Regions from separate parts of the Homo sapiens genome. Here region 1 is linked to region 2. The links come from fine-mapping of genetic effects on gene expression. A gene starts in region 2. The other region holds a variant in brackets. All regions are shown on one strand. Distances are between the middles of the regions. Region 1 has its middle 25 kb from the start of MIR8059. Region 2 holds the start of WFIKKN2 (WAP, follistatin/kazal, immunoglobulin, kunitz and netrin domain containing 2).

Region 1 (9,642 bases), 42 kb after region 2:
TGGTGGCCTGTCCCCACAAGGAAAGGGGCCCTCACAAGGCCAGCCTCAGACCCTGTGCCTGACCCAGGGCTCCTTTGCAAAACAAGTTCTTTTTTTTTTTTTTAATACTTTAAGTTCTAGGGTACATGTGCACAACGTGCAGGTTTGTTACATATGTATACATGTGCCATGCTGGTGTGCTGCACCCATTAACTCGTCATTTACATTAGGTATATCTCCTAATGCTATCCCTCCCCCCTCCCCCCACCCCACAACAGGCTCCGGTGTGTGATGTTCCCCTTCCTGTGTCCAAGTGTTCTCATTGTTCAATTCCCACCTATGAGTGAGAACATGCGGTGTTTGTTTTTTTGTCCTTGAGATAGCAAAACAAGTTCTTAATACTGCTCCTTCCCGAGGGGCCCTGAGGCCCAGCTTGCCAAGCGCCCACAACGCACCTCCAGCCAAGGTTTCAACAGATCTCACGAACAACCCCAGTCCAATGGAACACACCATGGAAACCGTGTTGTTTACGTTTCACAGATTTGCCGGGGATAAAGGCTACTTAATGAAGGAGGGCCTGAAAGTACTCATGGGAAAGGAGTTCCTTGGATTTTTGGAGAATCAAAAAGACCCTCTGGCTGCAGACATAACAATGAAGGACATGGACCAGTGCCAAGACAGCACACTGAACTTCCAGAACTTGTTTTCACTCACTGCGGGGCTCACCACTGTGGACAACAACTATTTTGTAGTACCTATGAAGCAGAAGGGAACGAAGCAGGCAGAACTAAGCAATTACTCAGCCCTGTGAGAGTTCTCCCAAAGAGTCGCTATAGGAACCTGCCCACAGCTTCCCCCTGTAGAAGGCTTTCATGAGCAGACCAGGGCCAAGAAAACAGACACATCAAATCCAAATCTCATCTAACAAGCAAAGAAAGGAAGTTAATTAAATAATAGGCTTTTGGTCTTTGGATTGTTTGCATCCTCTTGGCCTCAATTGACACATCCTTTTTAGTTTGGGAAAAATATAGATATACTTTTTAAATTATTTTTTAAGCCTTTGCCTCTGTACATATATATTTTTATATTATATATATATAGTGTTTGGCTGAGCTCAGTGGCTCATGCATGTAACCCTAGCACCTGGGGAGGCTGAGGTGGGTGGACCTTGGGCCCAGGGGTTTGAGACCAGCCTGGTCAACATAGTGAGACTTCATCTCTACAAAACAAAACAAAACAAAAAAAACCAGCCAGGTGTGGTGGCGTGCATGCCAGTAGTATCAGCTACTCAGGAGGCTGAGGTGGGAGAATTGCCTGAACCCAGGAAGCTGAGGCTGCAGCGAGCTATGATCACCCCCACTGCACTCCAGCCTGGGTGACAGAGTGAGACCCTGTCTCAAAAAAAAGTACATATATTTATGTATGTATGTATACATACGTATCTAGAGTTTCTTCTCACTGTGGTTTGAATGTGTACTCCCAAAAACATGTGTTGGAAACTTAATCCCCAATGCAACAGTGTTGAGGTAGGGCCTAATGAGACGTGATTATGCCAGGAAGTTCTGCCCTCAAGAAAGAGCTAATGCTGTTATCTCAGTGGGAGTGAGTTCCTTATAACAGGATGAAGTTGGCCCCTTTCTCTCTCTGTCTCTACCTCTCTTGCCCTTCCACTGTCAGATGATGTGGCAAGAAGGCCCTCACCAGATGCCGGCCCCTCAATATTAGACTTCCCAGCTTCCAGAACTATAAGAAATAAATCCCTGTTCCTCATAATTATCCAGTCTCAGGTACTCTGTTATTGCAGCATAAGACAGACTAAGACACTTCTCTCTCCGTCAACCACATTCCTTTTTTTTTTTTTTTTTTTTTGAGACGGAGTCTTGCTCTGTCGCCCAGGCTGGGGTGCAATGGCACGGTCTCGGCTCACTGCAACCTCCGCCTCCCAGGTTCAAGCGATTCTCCTGCCTCAGCCTCCGGAGTAGCTGGGATTACAGGCACCTGCTACCATGCCTGGCTAATTTTTGTATTTTTAGTAGAGACGGGGTTTCACCATGTTGGCCAGGCTGGTCTTGAACTGCTGACCTTGTGATCCACCCGCCTCAGCCTCCTGAAGTGCTGGGATTACAGGCGTGAGCCACTGCGCCCGGCCTATTCTTTTTTTTTTGAGACGGAGTGTCGCTCTGTCACCCAGGCTGGAATGCAGTGGTGTGATCTCAGCTCATTGCAACCTCCGCCTCCCAGGTTCAAGCAATTCTCCTGCCTCAGCCTCCTGAGTAGCTGGAATTACAGGCACACACCATGACACCTGGCTAGTTTTTGTATTTTCAGTAGAGATGGGGTTTCACCATGTTGGCCAGGCTGGTCTCAAACTCCTGACCTCAAGTGATCCACCTGCCTTGGCCTCCTAAAGTGCTGAGATTACAGACGTGAGCCATCATGCCTGGCCACCACATTCCTTTTCTTCCAGAAGGCCACTCTGCCCTCATCCTCCTCTTGCTTCCTTCTCAGTCTCCTTTGTGCCACCTCCGTGTCAGCCGCTCTTTAATGAGGTGTCCCCAGGGTCCTGCCTCAGTTCTCTTCCTGCCTCTCCCTGCTCTGGTTGCTCTGCTCCCATGGCTTCAACTCTAGTTAAGGTGACACCAGCTGCTATTACAGGCAAACACCAAGGTTTCAGTGGCTTAATGTAATAGAAGTGTATTTCTTCATAGGAAATCCAGTTGGCCTGAGTTCCACAAAGTCACAAAAGTTTTTTTTTGTTTGTTTTTTGAGACAGAGTCTTGCTCTGTCACCCACCCAGACTGGAGTGCAGTGGTGCAATCACTGCTCACTGCAGCCTCAACCCCCTGGACTCAAGCAATCCTCCCACCTCAGCCTCCCAAGTAGCTGGAACTACAGATGTGAGCCACTGTGCCCAGCTAGTTTTTTATTTTATTTATTTATTTATTTATTTATTTATTTATTTATTTATTTATTTTTTAGATGGAGTCTCATCACACTGTTGCCCGGGCTGGAGGGCAATGGTGCGATCTCGGCTCACTGCAACTTCCGCCTCCTGGGTTCAAGCGATTCTCCTGCCTCAGCCTCCCGAGTAGCTGGGATTATGGGCGCCTGCCACCACGCCCAGCTAATTTTTTGTATTTTTTAGTGGAGACAGGGTTTCACTGTGTTGGCCAGGCTGGTCTCGAACTCCTGACCTTGTGATCTGCCTGCCTCAGCCTCCCAAAGTGCTGGGATTACAGGCGTGAGCCATCACGACTGGCCCAGTTTTTAAATTCTTTGTAGAGATGGTGTCTCACTATGTTGCCCAGGCTGGTCTCAAACTCCTGGGTTCAAGTGATCCAGCTGCTTCAGCCTTCCACAGTGCTGGGATTACTGGTGTAAGCCACCATGCCCTGCCCCCTGCCATCTTTGACACATGGCTTCCTCATTGGCCTTGGACATCTGTATCCAGTCAGCAGCCTGGAGAGAACAAGGAGAATGGTTTGGAAGGTTGTGTGGGTTTTTATGATAGACAAGTACCTCACTTCCACCCACC[T/C]TCCACTGGCCCGAACTCCGCCCATGGCCACATCTAACGCAATGAAAGTCGGGAATGTGATCTAGCAGTTCATCTGGCAGTAGAGGGGCTGGCGTTCGATATAGCTTAGATGTTTGGCCCCTCCAAATCTCATGTTGAAATATGAGCCCCAGTGTTAGGAGTGGGCCTGGTGGGAGGTGTTTGCATCATAGGGGTGGATCCCTCAGGAATGGCTTGGTGCCCTCCCCATGGTAATGAGTGAGCTCTCAATCTATTAGTTCATGTGGGTGCTTTGTTTTTGTCTGTTTTTTTTTTTTGAGACAGGGTCTCACTCTGTCATCCACGCTGGAGTGCAGTGGTGCAATCACGGCTCACTGAAACTTCCACCTCCCAGGCTCAAGTGATTCTCTCACCTCAGCCTCCTGAGCAGGCCCACACCGCCACACCTGGCTAATTTTTTTTTTTTTTTTTTTTTTTTTTTTGAGACAGAGTCTCACTCTGTCACCTAGGCTGGAGTGCAGTGGCACAGTTTTGGCTCACTACAACTTCTGCCTCCTGGGTTCAAGTGATTTTCATGCCTCACCCTCCTGAGTATCTGGCACTACAGGTGCCTGCCACCATGCCCAGCTAATTTTTGTATTTTTAGTAGAGACAAGGTTTTACCATGTTGGCCAGGCTGGCCTTGAACTCCTGGCCTCAAGTGATCTGCCCACCTCGGCCCTCCAAAGTGCTGGGATTACAGGTGTGAGCCACGGCGCCCAGCCTGATTTTTTTTTTAGAGATGGCGTCTTGCTATGTTGCCCAGACTGGTCTCAAACTTCTGGCCTGAAGCAATCCTCCTACCTTGGCCACAGTGCTGGGATTACAGGTGTGAGCCACTGCACCCGGCCTGGTTATTTAAAGGAGCCTGGCATCGTTCTGGCCATGTGGCGTGCCTGCTCCCCCTTGTCCTGTGGCCCTGAGTAGAAGCTTCCTGGGGCCTTCCCCAGATGCAGGTGCTGGTATCATGCTTCCTGTACTGCCTGAAGAACCATGAGCCAAACACCCCTCTTTCTTTATAAATTACCAGCCTCAGTTTCCTTTACAGCAATGCAAAATGGACTAAGACAGCGTTCGTAAGCCTCTAGCCAGTCTCTGCCATGGGTTGCCCAATAGCCACTAAGTAGCCATTTCACTCTTCCTCTTACACATGGAACACACTCACTGCTTCCCGGAGAGGCAGCTGAGTCCACACCATCACTGCCTCCTGGGGCCTCCGCCACAGTTCGGGATCTCCAGCACACACAGGATTCTCTCCTCCAGGTCCTCTGTGACTCCCTGTGATCTGGAAACCGATGCCTAAAAGAACAAGTTATCGTGTCCTTCCTTTCTCCACCCCAGTATAGACACACAACACACTTCCGGATCCAGTGGTGGGGTGCAGATAGGGCAAGCACAGGACAACATCCTCTTCAGAGAAGGGAAGAACAGAAGATGCAAAGCAGGCTCTGATGACAGCGATGATGCCATTTGGCCAGGTGGGTGCTGGGAGCGCCCCCACCCTTGAAGGAATTGCCCTGTCCTCTTCTCTATGGCTCCCAGCCCTGCCCTCCACACTGTCGTCTTGCCATGTTGCTCCAAGGCCGCATTCGCAGCGACCGTTGAGGGGTAGACCCTCCCGGGTTGCTGCTCATCTTTTGTAGCCTGCAGCTCCTTCGGGTAAAAGTTTTAAGATCTCAAAGTGGTTTTGTTTTGTTTTGTTTTGTTTTGAGACGAAGTTTCGCTCTGTCGCCCAGCCTGGAGTGCAATGGCGCAATCTCAGCTCACCACAACTTCCACCTCCCGGGTTCAAGCGATTCTCCTGCCTCAGCCTCCCAACTAGCTGGGATTACAGGCATGCGCCACCATGCTCAGTTAACTGTGTGTGTGTGTGTGTGTGTGTGTGTGTATTTAGTAGAGATGGGGTTTTACCATGTTGGTAAGGCTGGTCTCGAACTCCTGACCTCAGGTGATCCACATGCCTCAGCCTCTCAAAGTGCTGGGATTATAGGCGTCAGCCACCACATCCAGCCTCAAGGTGGTTTTAAGGCCCAAAAGTTCAAACACTTTCTCTCTTTTTTATTTGTTTATTTTTTGAAGTTCAGGCTTATGGCTTATTTGACATACAGTTCCCTGAAAATCTGAAAAGGCTCCTCTACTTGCTTCCAGTCATTTCTGGATGCCAGCAACCACGTGCGAAATTCACAGTTAGACACAGTTCTCCAGCCTGATTCTTCTGCTGTCCGCCCTCCGGCCATTCTCTCTCGATGTGCTGATGGCAATCTTGAGGTTCTCAGGCCTGGGGAAGGACACTCCCTGACTCTGACCTTGCCTGAGGTTGAGGCTTCATGGGCCTTTGCTGCTCAAAGGCCTTTAAGCTATGATTTCCTTCTGTTTGGCATCTAGAAGCCGTCAATGTTCCTAACCAATACCCCAAATTCCGGGAGTCCCTATTTCATCTTAGTTTTGCTTGCAAATCAGCCAGTGCTCACTGGTCCCATCTTATTCTTCTGAGACCTTGTTAAGTGCTGCCTGTACTTTATGACTTCTTCCCTTAGAGCTACAGGGTCAGAGGACAGCTGACCTGTTTATCTCAGGCAACTATTTTACCAAATGTTTTGCCGTTGCCTAGCATGGGTCTCCATCTTTCCAAACCCTGACAAAGGTTTTCTCACTATCTTGCCCAACTACAAAACCAATGCCACACATTTTCGATTTTCATTATGGCAATATCCCGCTCCTAGTACTAATTCTATCTTAGTTAAAGTAACACTAACTTATGGAAGAGATACCCCACCCCCAAATTTCAGTTGCTAAACACAATACAGGTTTATTTCTTACTCCATAAAAGGAGGATGGGGGCAAGGAATTGGGGGACCTCCATTTCTGCTGTAAGAAACGGAAATCGCCGATTCCTTGCACCCCATCTGGTTTTCTTGTCTGGGTTTCTTACAGTGTCTCAGACAACGGGAGGCTGTGCCACTTTCAACATGTGGCTTCTAAAGGCGATCTGAATATCAGAATTCAGGTAGCAAATAAGAGAGAGAGAAGAGTAGCTGTGGCCCTGCTTTAGTAGATAAAGTTTCATTGAAACACAGACACATTTACATATTGCTTATGGCTGTCTTCACACAACAACGGCAGAGTTGATTAGGTGCAATAGAGATGGCATGGCTCATGAAGTCTAAAACCGTTACCAACTGGTCCTTTACAGAAAAAGTCGGCCAATGCCTAGAGGAGAAGATTGGAGAGCTAAGGGTAGATTTTCATAGGCCAGACCTGGAAGTGGCTTTGCCACTTTACTCACATTCCACTGGACAGAAAGCAGCCCCCTCAATGGAGGGAGGCTGCAAAGTGTGTTCTTTTGTTTTGTTTTGTTTTTTGAGACCAAGTCTGCCTCTGTTGCCCAGGCTGGAGTGCAGCGATGTGATCTTGGCTCACTGCAACCTTGAACTCCCAGGCTCCAGCAACCCTCCCACCTCAGCCTCCCAAGTAGCTGGGACTACAGGCACACGCCACCATGCCCAGCTAATTTTTGTTGTTGTTGTTATTGTTGTTGTTTTGTAGAGACGGGTTTTCGCCCCGTTGGCCAGGCTGGTCTCGAACTCCTGGGCTCCAATGATCTGCCTGCCTTGACCTCCTAAAGTATTAGGATTACAGGCGTGAGCCACTGTGCCTGGCCCAAAGTGTATTCTGGATGTGTCCCTAGAAGGAAAGGGAAACAGCTGGAGTTATCATCTGGTCGTTCTCTGCACAAGCACCATCCAGGCCCTGAGGATTTCTGACTGGGCACTTATGGGTCCAACTTCCTTCCTCAACTTCACATCCGTGTTTCTAGAAATCTGCCAGTCATCTCACGCTTCGTGTCCTCAACAGAACCTGATCCTTTTCCCTCTGAGCTGGCTTCTCCTTCTGTGCTCACTCCCAGTTAATAGTCCATCATTCACTCCAGTGCCCAAACTGGAAGCCCCAGGAATGCCCATGGCCCTCCCAGTCCCTCAGCCCCATAATGCAACACTCTCCTAGCAGATATCATTGCCTCCTCTTCTCCGTAGCCTGCCACAGCCTCAGCGCAGGTTCTAGTATTCGTCTTGTTCCTTGTCTCAATAACCAGAACCATCCCTGAAGCTTGCTCACAATTGTCTGAGTTCAGCTTCTTCAAAATCTCTTTTAACTAAATTGCTCCCCCATATTAACTCTTGCTGTCCCAAAGGACACGAACACATCACCTGAGGTCACCCATCATGCAGTGGCAGAGCTCAGATGGGAACTTTGGCTTATGAGCCTTCACAGGCCTCACTCTCCCATTCTTTGCAGGATAAAGCACCAGGAAGCACAAAGAAAATTCTTTGCATAGCAGAAACTCTCAAATGGTAGAAAGTGAGCAACCCCATTTCCACACACTCAGAGAAGAATTTTGCAGTGGGCTGAGCAGTTTTGCTCTGTGGGAACACAGCATATACCTCTCATGGGTTCTCTGTTTCCTTTTTTTTTTTTTTTGAGACAGAGTCTTACTCTGTCACCCAGGCTGGAGTACAGTTGCATAGTCTCAGCTCACTGCAACCTCTGCCTCCTGGGTTCGAGCGATTCTCCTGCCTCAGCCTCCTGAGTAGCTGGGACTACAGGCGTTCACCACTACTCCCGGCTCATTTTTGTATTTTCAGTAGAGATGGGGTTTCACAGTGCTGGCCAGGCTGGTCTTGAACTCCTGACCTCAGGTGATCCGCCTGCCTTGGCCTCCCAAAGTGCTGGGATTATAGGTGTGAGCCACCACACCCGCTGTTTCCTTTTTTTGAGACAGGGCTCCACTCTGTCTCGCAGGCTAAAGTGCAGTGGTACAATCATAGTTCACTGCAGCCTCAAACTCCCAGGCTCAAGTGATCTCCTGCCTCACCCTCCCGAGTAGTTGGGACTGCAGGCATATGCGCCACCACGCCTGGCGAATTTTTTTTTTTTTAATAGGGTCTTTTTCTGTTGTCCAGGGTGGAGTGCAATGGCATGATCTCAGCTCACTGCAACCTCTGCCTCCTGGGTTCAAGTGATTCTCCTGCCTCGGCCTCCCAAGTAGCTGGGATTACAGGCACGCACCAACACGCCTGGCTAATTTTTGTATTTTTGGTAGAGATGGGGTTTCACCACGTTGGCCAGGCTGGTCTGGAGTTTCTGACCTCAGGTGCTCCACCTGCCTTGGCCTCTCAAAGTGCTGGGATTATAGGCATGAGCCACAGCACCCTGCGAAGAGATTCTTCCTCTAGGACAAAGCCCCCCCCTCCAAAGACCCCTGAGGGTCACTGCAGGGCCACTCCTCTTCCCTCCCCTTCCTAATGGTATAGCAGCCATTCTGTGGGACAAAAAGAAGACAAACTGAGGTAGGTCCTCCTGGGAGTCTGGGACTGGTCCTTGGGGCTGCCTGGGTGACCCCCTACCCAATTCTGTTTCCCTGGCACTCCCTACCACCCTCTACTGCTCCTTGTGACACCGTCCTTCTGTAAGATCATCTTCTCTTTTACACGTTTGCTTATTCATTACCTGTCTCTTCTACCTGGAGGTAAGGAACCAAATTAGACTGGCAACACCGCCTCTTGTTCTCCTCTATTTCCAGCATCCAGAAAAGTGTCTGGCTTATCCTTGGTGCTCCATAAATTTTTACTGAATGAATGAATAAATGAATTCATGAATGAACAGGATGGCTAGTGAGACTCTGACGGCCTCCTGCTTCCCCCACACTGTGGAAGGTGGGGCTCCCCAAGCCTGCACTCCTACCTGAGATGCCAGTCTCTTTGTCTACTTTAGACACCAGGTTCCAAAGACCCTGTGCTCTCAGATACCTTTTATGTCTAAAGCAGAGGCCCTACCCCAGCACTCCCCATCTCAGTAGACAGTAACTCCATTTACCCACTTGTTCAAATTCAAAATGTCAGTCATCCTTGGCCGGGCGCGGTGGCTCATGCCTATAATCTCAGCACCTTGGGAGGCCAAGGCGGGCGGATCACCTGAGGTCAGGAGTTTAAGACCAGCCTGGCCAACATGGTGAAACCCCCTCTCTACTAAAACACACAAAAATTAGCCAGGCGTGGTGGCGCGCACCTGTAATCCCAGTTACTTGTGAGGCTGAAGCAGGAGAACCACTT
Region 2 (9,528 bases):
AGGCACTCGGCCGCCGGGAAAGCCGTGCCATTGGGGCTGCTCTCTGAGGTGGCTGCAGCCTGATGACCCCTGACCACCGACAGCGGGAAATCAGCCCTCAGGACCCCAGCCACGTTCCGGGCCGTGCAGGTGTAGATCCCAGCATCCTGCAGCTGGGCGTTATAGATGACCAGCTGGGCAATGTTGGTGACCACCACGTTGCCACGCACATGGTTGGGCCGCATGACCACATTCTCCCGATCCTCCAACTGCTTCTCCCAGGTGATCTCAGGCCGGGGCCGGCCCACCACATCACAGAGGAAGCTCACTGTCTCACCCATGGTGACCGACTGGTGCACAGGGTTGTTGAGCAGCGCAGGGGCCGCCATGTCCAGCTCAGGGGTCTCTGGGGAGGCTGTGGTGGGGTGCATGGTGGTCTCAGGTGGTGGGGGGCTGGTGTTGGGCCAGGTGAAGTGATAGCGGCAGGTTACAACGGCCAGTGTGATGCCTTTGGAGCAGGCCTCGGCATCCATGTAGCAGCGGTTATAGTAGGTGAGGCCGTCCGAGGCGCAGGTAAAGCTGGGCTCCTTCTCACAGCGGTCTTTGCACTTACACACGGGCTGGCCATCCCAGATGTCACACTCAGAGCCCTGCTGCAGACACATGAAGTGGTCACATGTGGCCTCCTTGGGCATGCCCACTGGGCCCTTCTTCCCTTTCACGTCCATGTAGCGGGCCGCCACGCAGCTCTTGGTCCCACATACGTTGGGGCAGCACTTCTCATAGGTCTCACACTCCTGAAAGAGCCAGAGAGAGTGGCCTGAACAGGGAGAAGGAGGAAAGGAGGGGCTCCCTATCCTACCCCATGGTTTGTGGGGAGGAGAACTAACATGTACTCACCATCTAGTGGGAGCAAAACACTTGAAAATAATAACGAATGCATACGTAGCATCTCCTACATGCTAGGCCCCTGTGTAAGAACTTTGACATCTGTGAGCTTGCTATGCTCATCACAAGCCAGAGGTGGGTATAGCCATTATCTCCACTCCACAGATGATGACTGAGGCACAGAGAGGCTAAGTAACTTTCCCAAGGTCACTCAGCTAGCAGGGTAGGAAGGGGTGGGCCAAAGACTCTAAGAGGAAAAGTTTTCCTACAACCATTTTACAGATGAGACTGCAGAGACTCAGAGAGGTGATGCCCAAGTTCACAGAGACGGGAAGTGGCAGAACAAGGCTCCAAGCTCCCAGTGGAAGGGATTGAGAAATGGAGTTTTTTCTCCTGCATCATATAGCACAAATGAGGTCTAGCTTGAACAAGTAGGCCTGCCTTTCATCTCTTTCCTATGGGAGTGAGGATGCCTTGCTGACTGGAAGAGATCGCATCAGAGGTTAAGAGGGGAATGCCCCTGGGACTTTATCCGAGATGATCCACACCTCTCCTCCCCTCAAGGAGACCGACACACACGGGGAACAGAGGCTGTGAGAGGGCCCAGATCGATCCACAGCCAACAGTCAGGGCAGGCGTGACGGGCCCCACACGCCAGGTCTCAGAGCCACAGGCTGTGCCAGGCCCAGGTATCAGCTCCGTGTGGGACCTTTCACGGGAAAAGCAACAAGAAAAAAAGTCCCCTTGTGTGGCAAAGGTCAGCAAGGCCGTCAGCGAGGACTTGCCAGGCTGTAATCCCCTCTGATATTCTGTGGAGCCACGTAAAGCATTAGTTTAATTCCTCGAAATTAGCAACATGCTCCTGGAGCTGACACAAACAAGGATTTCACGTGGTGTTTTCGACAATAACACATCGTACCCACTTGGCAGGCAGGCAACGCTCCTAATCCTCCACCAGGTAGTAACTCTGTGAATTACTCCCCACTAGGGCTGGCCTCTTGTCATTCCAACTTTTATTTCAGCCTCTTTGACATTCCACATCAGCTAAGAGGGGGAAAATATCCCCCCACCCTGGCTGCATGGAGCCTGCCTGCTTGACTTGTTTACTGTTCTACCCGTTTCGGCTCAGAATGGGGACTTTGTTTTGCAGCCCTTGTTTGGCATAGTCTTCTAGGCCACACCAGGGGAGGCTTTGGGACAGGGATGGGCAGCTCTCAGAGCTGGGTCTAAGGGAGAGAGACCCCGCAGGGAATGGAGAGCAGGAGAGGGAGTAGGAGCAGGAGAACCTTCTCCTTGGCCTGAGCCTCATCCCATTCCCTAAGACATTCAGGACCTGGAGGTCCATGAAAGCCTGGGTCCTTGGGCACCAGAGGGAAGGTACTTCTGGCCACAGGGAACCTACAGGGGGTCCTTAGAACACTTCTGTGTAAGGGGGCCAGAATGTCCCCAAGGGCTGTCTGGATACCCAGCCTTCCACAGGTGCCTTCTCTCCAAGACACACAAAATCCACCAGAGTCTCACCATCCCCAAGCCCTACCTGGTTAATCAGGCCAGCCTGTGCCTGCAAATGTAGCCAACTAATGGCATGACCTTGGCCAGATGGGAGCAGCCACCACTCCTCCTGACTTCTTATCTTCCTTTCACTTGGCACCACCATTGCCCAAGGGGAGCATCTGTCCTGGGAGGCCTAAGAATTGTCCCTGGGCACTGTGAGGTTGAGGCCACCCTCTCCAGGTCAGCCCTCTGCTCTCCTGTGGGTAACCAGGCATCTATGGGGGAACCAGTGTCTCTCGTGTTCCCTGGGGATGCCCCAGCCTGGATCTGGAGCCTTGGGAGACTCCGTGCTGCCCTCAGAGCTGGCCAGACTGGGCAGGAAATAGCTCTGCCTGGAGCAGGTGTAGGTCCCACAGCCTGTTGCCCCAGAGGGGGTGGGCAGGAATGGCCCTCGGGAATGACTCGGGAGCTAGAAGAGAACTGGCCCTGCCCTGCAGCAGTGCCCTCTGATACAGAGCAGAAGGCAGGACCAAGGACGCTGGGAGGCTGAAACGTGGTCTCCTTCCTCCCAGGGACACCAGAGATCCATTCAGAGCTGCTCCTGCTTGGCCTGCCGTCAGCCTGGTCTTCTCTCAGGCTCAGGGTCCAAACTCCTGAGGAGGTGGCCTGGAGTCCAATGCAATCAAAGCTTTCTTGTTAGACATGAGTTCCAAGCTCATCGTTCCCTCACTGGCCATGACAACTGTGCCCTCCGTGCCTGGCTCTGTGTCCACTCTCTCACCTGTGAATGGGCTGCTGATGCCCACCATGCTGACATGTCATGCCAACATACACGACGTGCCCGGCACGGTGCTGGCCACAGTAGCCCTCAGCACGCATGAAGGAGGAATCCTCGGGCTCCAGTCCCTGATGAACTGGGACATCGCTCCCACCTCTCCTTCCAGGCTTCGGTGTTAATAGACAGGATGGTGCCCTGTTTCTCTCCAGGTGAACGGGGCCTGTGTTCCTTCACCTTCCTAGGACCTGCAGGGCACTCCTGCATGGTCCCCACCCTGTGGCTCCCACCCCCATCACTCACAGGCTCATATGGTCCATCTCTGGCTTCTGGACCCCACTCACCTGGTCCGCCTCACACTCCAGCTTCTGGATCCCACTCACCTGGTCCATCTCACACTGTGGCTTCTGGACCCCACTCACCTGGTCCACCTCATACTCCCACTTCTAGATCCCACTCACCTGGTCCGCCTCACACTCCAGCTTCTGGATCCCACTCACCTGGTCCATCTCACACTGTGGCTTCTGGACCCCACTCACCTGGTCCACCTCATACTCCCACTTCTAGATCCCACTCACCTGGTCCGCCTCACACTCCAGCTTCTGGATCCCACTCACCTGGTCCATCTCACACTGTGGCTTCTGGACCCCACTCACCTGGTCCGCCTCACACACCGGCTTCTGGACCCCACTCACCTGGTCAACCTCACACTCCCACTTCTAGATACCACTCACCTGGTCCATCTCACATTGCGGCTTCTGGACCCCATTCACCTGGTCTGCCTCACACTGTGGCTTCTGGATCCCACTCACCTGGTCCATCTCACACTCCTGCTTCCGGACACCACTCACCTGGTCCGCCTCACACTGTGGCTTCTGGACCCCACTCACGTTGTCCTCCTCACACTCCCACACAGTCCCTCCCCGACGGCTCCCACCCCCGTCACTCACAGGCTCACGTGGTCCATCTCTGGTCTCTGGACCCCACTCACCTGGTCCGTCTCACACTCCCGCCTGCAGGTGCTCTGTGCGTCCACCCAGAGGTTGGGATTCATGTCGTTGGGGCAGATGCCGGCGTGGGAATAGCGGATGGGCGGCAGCGCCAGGCTTCGCGGGGGCACCCCGAGCAGTAGCAGCAGCAGCAGCAGCGCTGCCACCTGCTCCCAGCGAGACCAGAACCGGCGACACCTTGGGGCCCACATGGTGCAGGCTGGGGCGGCTAGAGACCTCCCCTGAAACGATGCCAGGGTCTGGGGCCCACCAGGGCCTTCTTCTCAGGGGCTGCAGACACCTGCCCTCCCCACCCCAGCAGGTTTCCTGCTCAGGCTGCTGCTCAGGCTGCTCTGCCGCTGCTGCCTCCACCAAGTCAGCACAGCCTGCCGGGCTGTGCGGCTTCAGATAAAAGAAAGGTCTTTAGAAGGAAGCTCCCTCTCCTGAGTGTGCAGGGAGAGGAGCCACAGCAGGGGCCCGCGCCCGGATTTATATCCTGGGCGCGCCACCCGAGTGGGAGCCAGCTAACCTGATGCCTGTCACAGGCAGGCTGCTGGCGCCTCTGTCCCGTGGCTGATCACAGACTTATTGCAGAAGGGGGGAAAAAAAAAAAAAGAAGCTGGAAGCAGTTTAGGCAGCGTATCTGGCACGGTGGGACACCTGCTTGTTTTTGACTCCAGGAGGCCTTTAACCCCTTCAAGGGCCAGAAATGGCATGTGCTTTGCGGGGAGCTGGCTCCAGGACACGCAAGCTCACTCTGAAGGAGGGCTTGTTTCCCTTTCCCCCACCTCCTTGGGGCCGGGCCCCCTCCTCCCCTTTGGCCACCTCTAAAGAACACACAATCGCTTGTTACGAGGAGGGACCTGCAGCCACCGGGTTAGCATCGCCCGGCTTGATAGTACATTTGAGAGCAAATGACGTGGAAAAACAACAAGTTCACGGCCATTCCAGGGCGGGCCTGCGCCGCGCTGTGCCCTGTAAGCCGACTCCCACCCCGGCCCCGGCCCTTTGTGGGGGGTGTGCGCACGGACAGCTCTGTATCTCTGTGTCCAGGGCAGTTTGCGTCTTAAGTTCCAACTTCAGTTAATTTTCCCCAAATCATTCCAGAGACACATACCAGATATGCTCTGGCCCCGCCGGCGGCTGGGACGGATCACATTCCTCCCTCTTCCATCGACACACCGAGAAAACCTCCGCGGTCACAGTGTCTCAGGATTGTGCCGGAGTCCAGCTGCCCTCGCTGACGACCACAGTGGCTGCTCTTCAGTGAGCTCCTTCTGACTGCCAGCCTTGTCTGGCCTCCCCCACTTCCCAAAGGAGAAGGTCTGTGGTCGAAGAGGGCGAGCGACTTGTCCAAGGTCGCACAGAGTGAGCAGTCCTGGTGGTACCAGCTGCCAGATGCACTGGGCTCTTCACACGTGTGGCTTCTCTGAACGCATCATCTCATTTAATCCTCACAACAAACTGCACCTCCATTTCAGATCGGAGGAAAGGACGCACAGAGAGGCTAAGCAACCTGCCCATGTCGCACAGCTACCCCACCACGGTACAGGAAACAGGGACACCAGCTTGCTGGGTGTGGGCAGGGGCCTTTTAAAATCACCCCTCCCCCATCCATCTGCCAGAACTGCTGTCAAGGCACAGCCCAAACTCTGGTTTTCACAGACTGGACAAGAAATTTTTGAAACATCAGGGGCTATATTTGTGGAGGGGCCGGGAAGAGAGCCAGAAGCTGCCAGGGGCTGGGGGCGATTCCTCCCCCATTTGGCAGCAAATGGCTTCTATCTAAAATGCCACAGAGCAGCCTGCAGTCTGAGTGTTTTCGAGTTGGTCACTCGATCCTGGGGGTAGGGGGCGGAGGCACATAGAGCCCCGAAAGAGAGGTACCTTTCCAAGGCCAAACCACAAGGGCCTTGAGGAGCTGCTGTGTCCCGGGGACAGTAGGTGGAGTGGCCCCCACACGCATCAGATACGGAAGGGATCCTGAAGGTAATCTCGCTTTACAGCTAAGGAAACTGAGGCCTGAGCCCAGGCCGCTCCTTCCCCACGTCCACTTTCCCCTTCAAGAACACAGCTCGCCATCTCACAGGACTGTAAAACGGCCACGGGACCCTCGCTTCCACACCCAGACCCTTCCCCTTCCCAGCCGGGCGGGTGCTGCCTTCTCCCCGCCTGAGCTGGTCCCTTCCCGTTGTGCGGCCATTCTGCAGGATCTGTCTTTTCTGCTTATGTCAAATCGCTAATGAAGGGTGTCAGATCCTAATCCTCTAAATTATTGGAATAAACTTCCCTTCGAGGCCAGTCCCCGTAATGAAGCCAGACAGCGGGCGACGCCGGCTGCTTTGAATTCCCCGTAATTTCATCAGCCCGTGTTCCAGCTGCTCCGCGCGGGGGCCTTCACACAGCCCTTGGACAAACGCGGTTTGCGCAGCCTCCTTTGATAGCACAAAGGGACATGGACAGTGACACATTTATAAGCAGGACTTAGAAAAACTGTCACAGCCCCATTAGGCCAGGACAAGTATCCAAGGAGAGGAGGCCGATTTCTGGGCAGTCCCAAGAGACCATTAGAGGGTGTGGGAGAGATGAGAGGGGGTCGGAGGAGGGGAGGCACCGAGCAGAGGTTGGGGGGTGCTGAGGAGGGCAGGAGAGGGGCACACGGCAGGGCAGGGGAAGCTTGGCCATCCTACCCCCACTCCTGGGGCTGATGGAGAAAGCCCCCACACCCAACCTGGTCCTGTCTCAAGCCACGGACTTCTCCTTCCCGGGCCCCATTCCTGGACGTTCTACTCTGAGAACTCTCAAAGCAGCATCGGGAAAGAGAGGAGCCCAAAGCACTCTGACTCTCCCTCCAGCCCTTCCAAGTCTCCCACCAAAACACAGCTCAGAATAATAAATAACATCTGATCGGCCTGGAGCCCACACAGTGTTTTCACCTGCACGTTGCTGCTGACCCCACGGCAGCCCCAGGAGGGAGCTCCCTAGCGCGGGAGAGGAAACCGAGTCACAGAGAGGTTAGGCTGGGCCCTCCTCCTGCCCACCCCGGGCCTATGGCCTCCACACACCCCGTGCAAGCTTCCAGCCCCTCCAGAAAGCGACCCCCAGCCCATGCTGGCTGCCCCGCCCACTGGCTTGTTTATAAGCTGTTTGGGAGCGCTTTGAAGTCTTCTCCTCCCTCCCAGAGGCCCTTGGAACTGGCTCTGGATCTGCCTCCTTCTCTCTCTCCTCTTGGTGTGTCTGTGTGTCTGACTCTGTGTCCCTCACACTCTTCCCTGTGGGTGGTGTGGGCCCTACCCTCACCAAACCCACGGTACTGAAGGTGGGCCCAGCGGGAGCGGCTCAGTGGCACATGCCCACTGTCCACCGGGCCTCCTCCACTCAGGCCACTGGGAGCAGAGGCTGGGCTGGGTCTCCTGAGCAGAGGCCTGGCCTCGGGCGTGATCTGCCTTTTCCCCTTTCCCCAAGGACACCAGGCACAGCTCTCCTGCTACTCAGAATGAGAGGTCAGAGAGGGCTGGGCTTGGCCCCATCTTGGAAGGGCCCCTCCATCCCCCACCATTGTCACAGGGTGGAGAACCATGGATTCTTCACACTGCCAGGGTGGGTTCAAATCTGCTCTAGGAGCCGTGGGAGGAGGTCACCAGGTCACTCTCAGTGACCCTTGACCTCAGGTTCACCCTGACATTAACAACTCCTGAGCCGCTAGGGTCTTGACGGGACAGCACAGCTGATACCATTTCCCAAGTCAGCCAGCCCCCAGCAGCCGCGATGGGGAGGTACAGAGGTGCCACAAGAGTATCTTGGGTGCCACGTGGCTTATGCACACCCCACACCCACACTCCTACCTCACACTGCACCTGCTCCCTCTATTTCTCTCCACAAAGGTTTTTTAGAGCACCTACGGTGTGCCAAGTTCTGGGCACATCGGAACCAATAACTGGCCAGGCATGGTGGCTCATGCCTGTAATCCTAACTCTTTGGGAGGCCAAGGTGAGCAGATCACCTGAGGTCAGGAGTTTGAGATCAGCTTGGCCAGCATGGTGAAACCCCATCTCTACTAAAAATAAAAATAAAAAAAAATAGCTGCACATGGTGGCGTGAGCCCGTAGTCCCTGCTACTTGGGAGACTGAGACAGAAGAATTGCTTGAACCCAGGAAGCGGAGGCTGCAGTGAGCCAAGATCACGCCACTGTACTCCAGCCTGAGTGGCAAAGCGAGACTCCATCTCAAAAAAAAAAAAAAAAGAAAATAACAACAATCTTTGTCCACAGGGAGGGTACCGTCTAGTCTAGAAAGCCAGCATGCAGAGATAAGAATGGTGAATGCTGGTGGGGAGTCCTCTCAGGGCTGGGGAACAGAGAGGAGGGAGAGACCTGGGGCTGGCTCTCGCACGACCATGACATTGGGTGGGGCCCAAGCCTGGGCAGAATCTCAAAGGAGGGAAGGCATTTCCTACACCTCTCCTTGGAAAGGCCTGGCCCACACCACAGTCTCCTCGGCCAAGGCCCTCCCTCCGCGGGGCCCAGGCCTCCGGAAAGGGGAGGTGATAGGGACGTCAGCAGGTTTAGGAGATGGGGTGGGGGTGGGAGCTGCAGGTCTTGCAGGCGCGGCACAGGGTGGCCCCAGCAAAGTACACCCCAGCGGCCCATTCTGGTCTACCCTGCTTGGGCCCCAGATCTGAGCCAGCCACATTTTCTCCCAAATGGATGGGGGGAAACCAGCCCCCCAGGAGCCCCTCCCGCTCTGATCTTGGTCATTTAAACATGTTTGGGGAGGAGGGGCAGGAATTGGGGTGCTGAGAAGGAAAGGAAGTCCTAGCCAGGGTGCTCAGATGGCAGCCCAGGTTGCCTTGGCTAAAGGCAGTGATTAGTCAGACTCAAGCCGGAGAATTCAATAAAGCCAGCGGCTCATTACCCAGCTGGGACCCCCTGCCCGCGCGGCCTCGGGCCTGGGTTGCATTACAGGACCGCGTGAACTCTCCCCTCTGAGTGAGGCTGCACCGGGCCTTGGAATAATTATGGGGCCTCAGCAGATGGTGGAGACGGATGGGGGAGGCCTTCAGCTGTGAGACACGTGATCCATCTGCATCTGTGTGGAACAGGACACGGGAGGGTCCTCACTGAGCAGAGAGGTAAAGCAAGGGCAGTCCTGAATCCACATCTGAGAATTATGGGGTTGTCAGGGGTGGGGCATGGCCCAGTGTCCCGGGCCAGCTAGGCCTCCTTGGAGACCCTTGCCTGGCCCGGGGGGGTCTACAGGTGCAGTGAGCCCCTGGAATCTGGAGTCCTGGAGTCTCTGTGTCAGGAACCCAGAAGAGGAGGCACCTCTGGGACAGCACAATTCTGGGCTCCTTTGGCATTCAAATGTCTTCCTAGAAGATTTGGAGCCTGTCTCGGGCTCCTC

The links. PIP is the estimated chance that this variant, and not a neighbour inherited with it, causes the effect.
Region 1: its variant is fine-mapped to the expression of WFIKKN2 in blood mononuclear cells (TOPMed, PIP 0.95).

Annotation. Positions count from the first base shown.
Region 1 is chr17:50,788,477-50,798,118 of GRCh38, reverse strand. No RefSeq gene overlaps it. Among named protein-coding and RNA genes, the nearest start is that of MIR8059, 25 kb to the right of the region's middle. The variant T/C (reference allele first, on the strand shown) is at 3,515.
Region 2 is chr17:50,830,747-50,840,274 of GRCh38, reverse strand. WFIKKN2 (WAP, follistatin/kazal, immunoglobulin, kunitz and netrin domain containing 2) reads right to left here and starts at 4,689. Exons shown (of 2, transcript NM_175575.6): 1 at 4,128-4,689; 2 at 1-776. The coding sequence starts at 4,337. RefSeq lists enhancers at 6,977-7,497, 7,498-8,018, 8,178-9,048, 9,049-9,528.